Homo sapiens: one gene and its partner. The protein of the gene in region 1 binds, or shares a complex with, the protein of each later gene. Each region holds a gene or a part of one and is shown on either strand. Other genes may lie near its edges.

Region 1 (3,600 bases):
CTAGCAACTTTATTTCAAATATAATGCAAATTTTTCCATGGGCATAAAACCCAGTTCACAATATCTGCAAGTTTTCAAAACATTAACAGAACTTTACACAATGTATAGAGTGAAAGAGTCTAAACGGGTTTATCAATTCATTCATTCAATACACATTTGTGCCCCTCCCTATATGTCAGACACCAAGACTACAGAAAAGATTGAGTCATTTGCCTGAAATAATTCACAGTCTACTCAAAGAAGAAAAAGAGAGAGAGAGTGGGAATGTGAATGCCCGAAGTGCAAAAACAGAGCACAAGTAACTTGGAGCTCACAGAAGGGGGCAATAATTATCAAGCTTCAATGACTGTTTTTGAAGTCACCAAATGTAGCACTTGGAAAAACAGGGACGGACGTAGGGCATTTGCCTATGCTTGTCAAGGCTTACAAAATGCCCAGCAGGGGCACAAAACTGATAAAAAGTTATTGATTCGAATCAAAACTCTCATTTTTTAAAATGTTAATAACGTTTTTGTCCTCTTAAACATAAAATGTTCCTTAATTTATAGTAATGAAATTCGATGTGAAAAAACAAGAATGAATGAATTTTTTAGGTGATGTCCAATAGCTAAGCAAATAAGACACTCTGGTTTTCTGAAACTAATTTCCAATTTCACCTAGTCCTGTTAAACTAAAATATGCAAATCTTAAATACGTTTTAAAACTGCACAACTTATCTGAACTAAGTCTCAAAACCTTTTGTAACCCACAACAAAATGGAAAGCCAAAACTCTTCATGGACGTAAAACAGAAAACAGCGCACGTTTATCCACGAAAACCCCAAGTTTACTACTTCCTCATTACAGAATTTCTCTTCCTGGTACAGGAGCAGGATGGTTATCAAATATTCCATGTCCTCAAATTCTCAGTCCCTGAAATCAGCTACCAAGCCTCCAAAGAACCTGGCTCGGGGAGAAAAGCGAGGAGGTCAACTTACCCAAGCCTTTGCGCCTAGGTCTTAGTGGGGAGGGCGGCACTGCCGGGACAAGACTGGGAGACTCCAGGCCGGTGGAGGGAAACGGCAACAGGAGTTTTCCACCGGGAATTAGGGGTGCAGGGCTCTGTCTCGCCACATACCCTTCGCCCCGGGGCAGGTCCGGGCCTCACAGGCGCCTCCCCTGGATCTCTGCAGCCCCGGGGCGCACGAAGACCCCCAGGGACCTCCGAAGGTTGGCGAGGTGGGCGTCCACCCAACGCAGCCTGACCCCACAGTCCCGGAGCGCCGCGGTGAGGCCCGGCCCACGGGCCGCCCTCCGGTGGACCCCACTACTGGACACAAAGGGAGGAGGTCTTCCCGGCCTGTGGCGCCCTTCCCCCGACGGCGGCTGCACCCCGGAGGGAGCCCGGCGCTACTCCGGATGCCGCTGCGGCACCTCAAGTCTTCGCGGGTCGCCGACTGCCCAGACTCCCCACCTCTGGTTCTATCCCTTTTGCCCGGGATAGAGCAGTCACGTCCACTCGCTACCTCTTCTTCTCCGCCTCTGGACAGCGGAGCAGTCAAATCCCGCCGGATCCACCCAGCCCGGACGGCGCGCGCCCGCTTATGCAAATAAACACACCCCAAGCCCCAAGGGGCGGCCACCGCTGCCGCCGCGCACTCCTGCCACGGCTCATGCCCGCGCGCGTAGAAGTGCCCGCCTACCCCGCGGACGGGGCGTGGCTAAGCCTCAGGGACGCGCCGCGTTCCCACCAATGCCGGACTCGGGCAGCGGCGGCGCGCCCGACGTGGCGCGCGCGACCCCTTCGTCCTGCCCCTCCTCCTCGGGTCCCGTCGGCCTGCGCGCGCCCGGGAGTTTGAATTTCCTCGGATTTGGAGCAATATCGCAGTGGAAGGCGCTGTGGGTTGAGGTCGCCGCCCACCTCTCCTAGGGGAACTATGGAGCTGGCAGCTGAAAGACTCAGTGAAGCAACGAGGATGCCGGGGAGAGGGAAGGGGCTGGGCTCTGGGCGGTGCCAAGTCTGTGAGGGGGCGCGGTCACCGCCCAGGGTTCCCACGAACGCCAAGGCGGCCACGTCCTGCTCCCCCTGGTGAAGAAGCTGCCCTGGGCTTGTCGTCCTAGGGTCTCCAGACATGTCTGAGGTGAAGAGCCGGAAGAAGTCGGGGCCCAAGGGAGCCCCTGCTGCGGAGCCCGGGAAGCGGAGCGAGGGCGGGAAGACCCCCGTGGCCCGGAGCAGCGGAGGCGGGGGCTGGGCAGACCCCCGAACGTGCCTGAGCCTGCTGTCGCTGGGGACGTGCCTGGGCCTGGCCTGGTAAGTGGACGCGAGGCTGCCTGGGCCGGCCTCCTGTGGGCCCCCTGCTGTTTGGGCTCCCACCCGGCTCAACATCCAGCCGGAGGTGATCCAACCTCCCAGACCTGGGCCTTCTGTGCCTCTGTCTTGACCCCAAAGGAAGGAAACAGCCCAGCCTTGTTTTTCCCTTTCGGGCGTTTCTTGTATCTCATTTCCCCCCGTGCTGGTAGCATGCCCCTATCGCTCAGAAGGAGTTGAGGCTAAGGTTTGGGAACGAGCCATTTGTTAAGAGCTGCAGATTCGGCCACGCTTTCTGAAGCTCCCGCTACACGTCAGAAGCGTTCACGTTGTTATAAACCGTTACTTCCTGTCCGCTGTGCCCCATTCCGGGACACATCTGCCCCACCCTACTCACCCCATAAATACCTAATGGAAATACTTGCAACCTTAAAACAGATCATTATGTTTGGAGACCGAGGCAGGTGGATCACTTGAGGTCAGGAGTTCGAGACTAGCCTGGCCAACATGGTGAAACCCCATCTCTACCAAAAATACGAATAATCAGCCGGGCGTGGTGGCGGGCGCCTGTAGTCCCAGTTCCTCCGGAGGCTGAGGCAGGAGAATCGCTTGAACCCGGGAGGCGGAGGTTGCTATGAGCCAAGATCGCATCACTGCACTCCAGCCTGGGCGACCGAGCGAGACTCCGTCTCAAAAAAAAAAAAAAAAGAAAACCATATCATTATGCTCCCAAAGGAGCAAACGTTATAGTAGCAGAGCTTGGAGGAGTGCTCATATTTTGATCACCGTGCATGCATTATGAATTTAAGGTCTTTTATTAAGTAAGTTACAGATTGAATATGGTAAAGCTACAAAAACATAGCACTTGTGTTCACTTAAAACTAACCAGTTGCAGTTTTAAAATCAGGTAAATGGCGATATATTGGTGTCATTAGGAAAAATGAATATTAGAAATAACCTTAAAACCAACTCGTAAAAAAAGAAAAAAGAAAAAAACCAACTTGTGAATTTTATTTTCCCAGCCTTTTTTTTTCTGGCGGGAGGAGGGAATAGCCCATTTCATTTTAATAAGATTGGCATCTTAATAGAATTTTTCTCCATTTTTCATTCATGTGTAAAGTTATTTAGTAAGACTGTTGTTAATCTTCCAGAGTGATAGAATTTTAGAAGAGACCCTGGACATCTAGACATTTTTTATGCTACTACATATGGAATTATACTTTACTGGTGACTCATCCCAAATAGTGTATTTTTCAGAGTTAAAAGATTTGTTACGGCTGGGCGCGGTGGCTCACACCTGTAATCCCAGCACTT
Region 2 (4,112 bases), on another chromosome or scaffold:
TGAGCCTGGGGAGAGGGCAGCCTTGGGTGCCTCCAGGTGGCCTGGGCATGGTTCTGCTGACAGAGTTCTCAGGTACACCCCGGCCTAGGTGACCCGTGAGGTCCTTTGGGATGAATGCTCATGGCTGTTGGATTTCCAGGTTACCAGCTCCCTTCCCTTAATACCAAGATGGGGGGGTCACCTTCTAGTGCTAGTCTTCCCTGCAGTTGCTTCTCTTTTGCCCTGGAATGCCGGGTGGAGACCCTGCTACTCCTTGTGCGAGAGGGCAGACCCCGTTTTCTTCCCGCCTCTCCAGACTGTCCTCTAGGGAGCGTGGGGAGAGCCCGGGTTTACGTGGGTCCCTGTGCTGGCAGGCTTACATCCTGAGCATGGAGCCCTGTGGCCACTGCCTCATTATCAACAATGTGAACTTCTGCCGTGAGTCCGGGCTCCGCACCCGCACTGGCTCCAACATCGACTGTGAGAAGTTGCGGCGTCGCTTCTCCTCGCTGCATTTCATGGTGGAGGTGAAGGGCGACCTGACTGCCAAGGTACACTCACTATCTGTGGAGGGAGACAGGGTGGGGGGCAGTGGGTGGGGAAGTATCTTTTGAGGGACTCCAAAAGCCAGCTGACTCCCCAGGCGAGCCCTTACATCTGGAGGACCATGGGAGGTAGGACGGCCCAGCGGCTACAGGTTCAAGTTCAGACGCAGAAGTCCGGGTTTGAGGACTGGCTCTCTCGGCCACCTGCTGTGTGACCTCCTGTGCCTCAGTTTCCTTGTCTGGAAAGCAGGAATAGTACCTGCCTCCTTGGGTTGTTTTGGGGGTTAGATGAACAGTGCCCAAGCGTAGCACCTTCTCCCCAAAAATGGTGGCTATTACGACTGCTGGGACTGTCAGCACTTCGGTACTGGCCCTGGGAAACCGAGAAAGTGCTCTGCCCAGGCGTTTGGGTTGGGCCCTTTGTTGTTTTATTTTTTGGGGGGGGCGGGGGCACAGAGTCCCACTCTGTCATCCAGGCTGGAGTACAGTGGCGCGATCTCGGCTCACTGCAACCTCCACCTCCCAGGTTCAAGCAATTCTCCTGCCTCAGCCTCCTGAGTAGCTGGGATTACAGGTGTGTGCCACCATGCCTGGCTAAATTTTTTTTTTTGTATTTTTAGTAGAGACGGGGTTTCACCATGTTGGCCAGGCTGGTCTCGAACTCGTGACCTCAAATGATCCACCTGCCTTGGCCTCCCAAAGTGCTGGGATTACAGGCGTGAACCACCATGCCTGGCCAGGCTGGGCCCTTTTATTGTTAGGAACGGTCCAGTCTGCATCTAGACCTATCCGTGCTTCTGGCTCACCTGCAGCCCTCTCTTGTAGAAAATGGTGCTGGCTTTGCTGGAGCTGGCGCAGCAGGACCACGGTGCTCTGGACTGCTGCGTGGTGGTCATTCTCTCTCACGGCTGTCAGGTAGGAAGCCTCCCACTGTTCCCTGGGCAGGCATTGGGTACTGGCCGTGCCAAGAGGCTGTGCAGGGGCCATGTCCCTTCTTGTGTCCAAAACACCCTTGGCTTTGTGGAAAAGGGCTGTGGGGCCCTGCCCACCTCCTGTTGTTTTCTTGGGAGCCATGTGGTCCTCTGAGGAGTTGGCTGCACCGTCCTGGGCAGGTCGGTGTTCCTGGGAGAAGCCCTCTGGGAGAGGGAGGGCAGAGACCAGGTCTGCTCACGAAGCTCCTGCACCCAGAGTTTGTTCAGAGGCGGGTACAGCACACATGTTGTCTCAGCTCCTGTCTCTGTCCTGTGAGGCACTGCCCCAGGCCCCTTGCTGCTGGTGGGACTCAGGACACCAGGCCCACTGGGGGCTTGGCCCCTTACGTATTTGTCACTGTGATTAAGCCCTTACCCCTTACTGGGCCTCAGTTTCCTCATCTTTTAAGTTGAGGAGTTGGACAGATCACAGTTATAAGCTGGGGCCTGGAGTCCCCCTGTGGTCTGCACGGTGTTTTGAAAACTGGCAAATTTCACATAAAAATCAGGATTTCTAGTTTCTCTTGACAAACCGCAAAGGTCTGGCCTGACGAGGCCAGCATCTTCAGCCAGTAAAACTCCAGCCTGTGGCTGGGCAGGGCTTTCCCTTTGGTCCTTTCTCTCATAATATGGTCCCTAGAGCTCATGAAGAATGTGGACTCCCAGGCCCTACCCTGGACCTCTTCATTCCAAGTCCGCCCAGCAACAAGGTTTCCAGGTGATTTCCATGCCCTTGAGGTCTGAGCTGAACTGATTTAAAGCAGCCACTCTCAGCGTTGAGCTGCCTCAGTCAGAGGGGCCTGGAGGACCATACTGCTGATTAGGAGGTCTGGGTGGGGCCCAGGAATCACATTTCTTACAAGTTCCCAAGCGATATTGATGCCGCTGCTGCAGGGGCCAAACTTTGAGAACCACTGGTCTAGAGGCCGCAGCCAGCACTCTCCAGGCACACTGGCCCCTAGAGGCACATGAGTTTGACATGCAACCCCTTGCTGTCAAGGTGTCTTTCCAGATGCTGACCAGGGTCTTTCCAGAACCAACCTGCTCTGTCTCAATCAGCCTCGTGCCCCTGGCTTTGACCTTCCAAATCCTTGGCTCCCACAAAACCTCTGAACAGGCTGTTGGATTCCTACTCCAACTTCTTGGTTTTGTAACCAGGGTTCTTGGTCTTCTAGGCCAGCCACCTGCAGTTCCCAGGGGCTGTCTACGGCACAGATGGATGCCCTGTGTCGGTCGAGAAGATTGTGAACATCTTCAATGGGACCAGCTGCCCCAGCCTGGGAGGGAAGCCCAAGCTCTTTTTCATCCAGGCCTGTGGTGGGGGTAAGCAGCTCCTCAGCCTCCCTCTGGGTGGGTCTGGTGGGGAGGGAGCCGCCACCTGCTTCTTTCTCCAGCCTGCCCCTCACAGGGCCCATGAGGTCTCTCCAGGCAGTCAGAGGGTACCACACATGGTCCCTTTTTGGCAGCACCTCTGTCTGGCTGGAGCAGGCCCTGCTCTGTCTGCTTTGTAGAGGTCAGAGTCTTCTGTTTCATGGCACAGTGGCATCATGGGCTCAAGTAACTTTGGCAGCTTCAATTCCAAAGACTTGGCAAAAAGAAAGCAGAAGAGAGAGGAGAAACCTCTTTTTATTTTTCTTGTCACCATTCTCCTGACCTCCATCAACTAGACCCCGTTTCCACTATCCCAGAGAAAGGGTGGCCACAGCTAAACTGCATGGAGAAACCAAAGAATTTAAATATTGGAATTTTCAAAAGTGTAGTTGTGGGGGTTCGAGGAACATTTAAAGATTACTTGGGCTGGGTGCAGTGTCTCATGCCCAACACTTTGGGAGGCCGAGGCAGGAGGATTGCTTGAGCCAGGAGTTCGAGACCAGCCTGGGCAACACAGCGAGACCCTGTCTCTATTTTTGTTTTGTTTTTTAAATGTATTACTTGGATTCTTTGTAGTTTTGCTGTATGCTCTAATTTTAAACTTAACTCCTATTACAGTGTTATCTGATTTTCTTATAAAAAAAGAGGGAAGAGAGACAAACATGGGGTTCCTAGTTTGTGGGTCATGACAGGAATATCAGGGAGCGCTAGAAATTCTGTCCCAGGGAGTCCCCTCTGCCCTAGGCTCTCCACGGACTGGAACATTCAGAAGGTATATCAGTTCCTTGCCTCCAGCCTGATCTGCCAGAGAAGTGAGCACTGTTATACCATAGCGCTGTCCAGCTCGTCCAGCTGTGACATGGGCACCTGTGGTCTATTTCTCCTGTGCACATCCAACTGCCCCATCCCTATTCCACGTTGGTGGAGTTGGGTGGAGGCTACCTAGGAGAGCAGTCTCTGGTCACATCATTCATCCAGTAAGTGTTTATTGAGCACCATCTGTATATACCAGGCTGTGCGTTAGGTGCTGGGGATAGGGGAAAAACAGAGTTTCAGTCTCCTGGAATTTATAATTTGACATGAACTGTATTAAGTCACTGTCATGACCCATGCCCATAACTTGACCACAAGTGATTGAGAACACTTGATTAACCCTGGATGGGCTACTGACCTATCTATCACACAGCCCTGGGCCAGTTCATCTCTAGACAGCTCAGCAAATGGGGAAAATAACAGAACCCACTCC

Evidence for each region.
Region 2: the proteins of APAF1 (region 1) and CASP9 are in contact, whole or in part, in a crystal structure (PDB 4RHW), measured with the Homo sapiens proteins. Residues at the interface, in NP_863651.1 of Homo sapiens: Thr22, Ser23, Tyr24, Met26, Asp27, Ile30, Ser31, Ile37, Glu40, Glu41, Arg44; in NP_001220.2 of Homo sapiens: Asp23, Trp26, Asp27, Leu30, Arg36, Pro37, His38, Glu41, Gln44, Arg45.

What each region holds. Positions count from the first base shown.
Region 1 is NC_000012.12:98,643,212-98,646,811, reverse strand, and holds the start of APAF1 (apoptotic protease-activating factor 1), read right to left. Parts: upstream 1,523-3,600; 5' UTR 977-1,522; intron 1-976. Other genes in the region: IKBIP (inhibitor of nuclear factor kappa-B kinase-interacting protein), read left to right, coding at 2,111-2,289. UniProt on the Homo sapiens protein: Oligomeric Apaf-1 mediates the cytochrome c-dependent autocatalytic activation of pro-caspase-9 (Apaf-3), leading to the activation of caspase-3 and apoptosis. This activation requires ATP. Isoform 6 is less effective in inducing apoptosis.
Region 2 is NC_000001.11:15,503,317-15,507,428, reverse strand, and holds part of CASP9 (caspase-9 isoform alpha precursor), read left to right. Parts: intron 1-295; exon of another isoform or gene 296-353; coding exon 354-530; intron 531-1,349; coding exon 1,350-1,439; intron 1,440-2,670; coding exon 2,671-2,818; intron 2,819-4,112. UniProt on the Homo sapiens protein: Involved in the activation cascade of caspases responsible for apoptosis execution. Binding of caspase-9 to Apaf-1 leads to activation of the protease which then cleaves and activates effector caspases caspase-3 (CASP3) or caspase-7 (CASP7).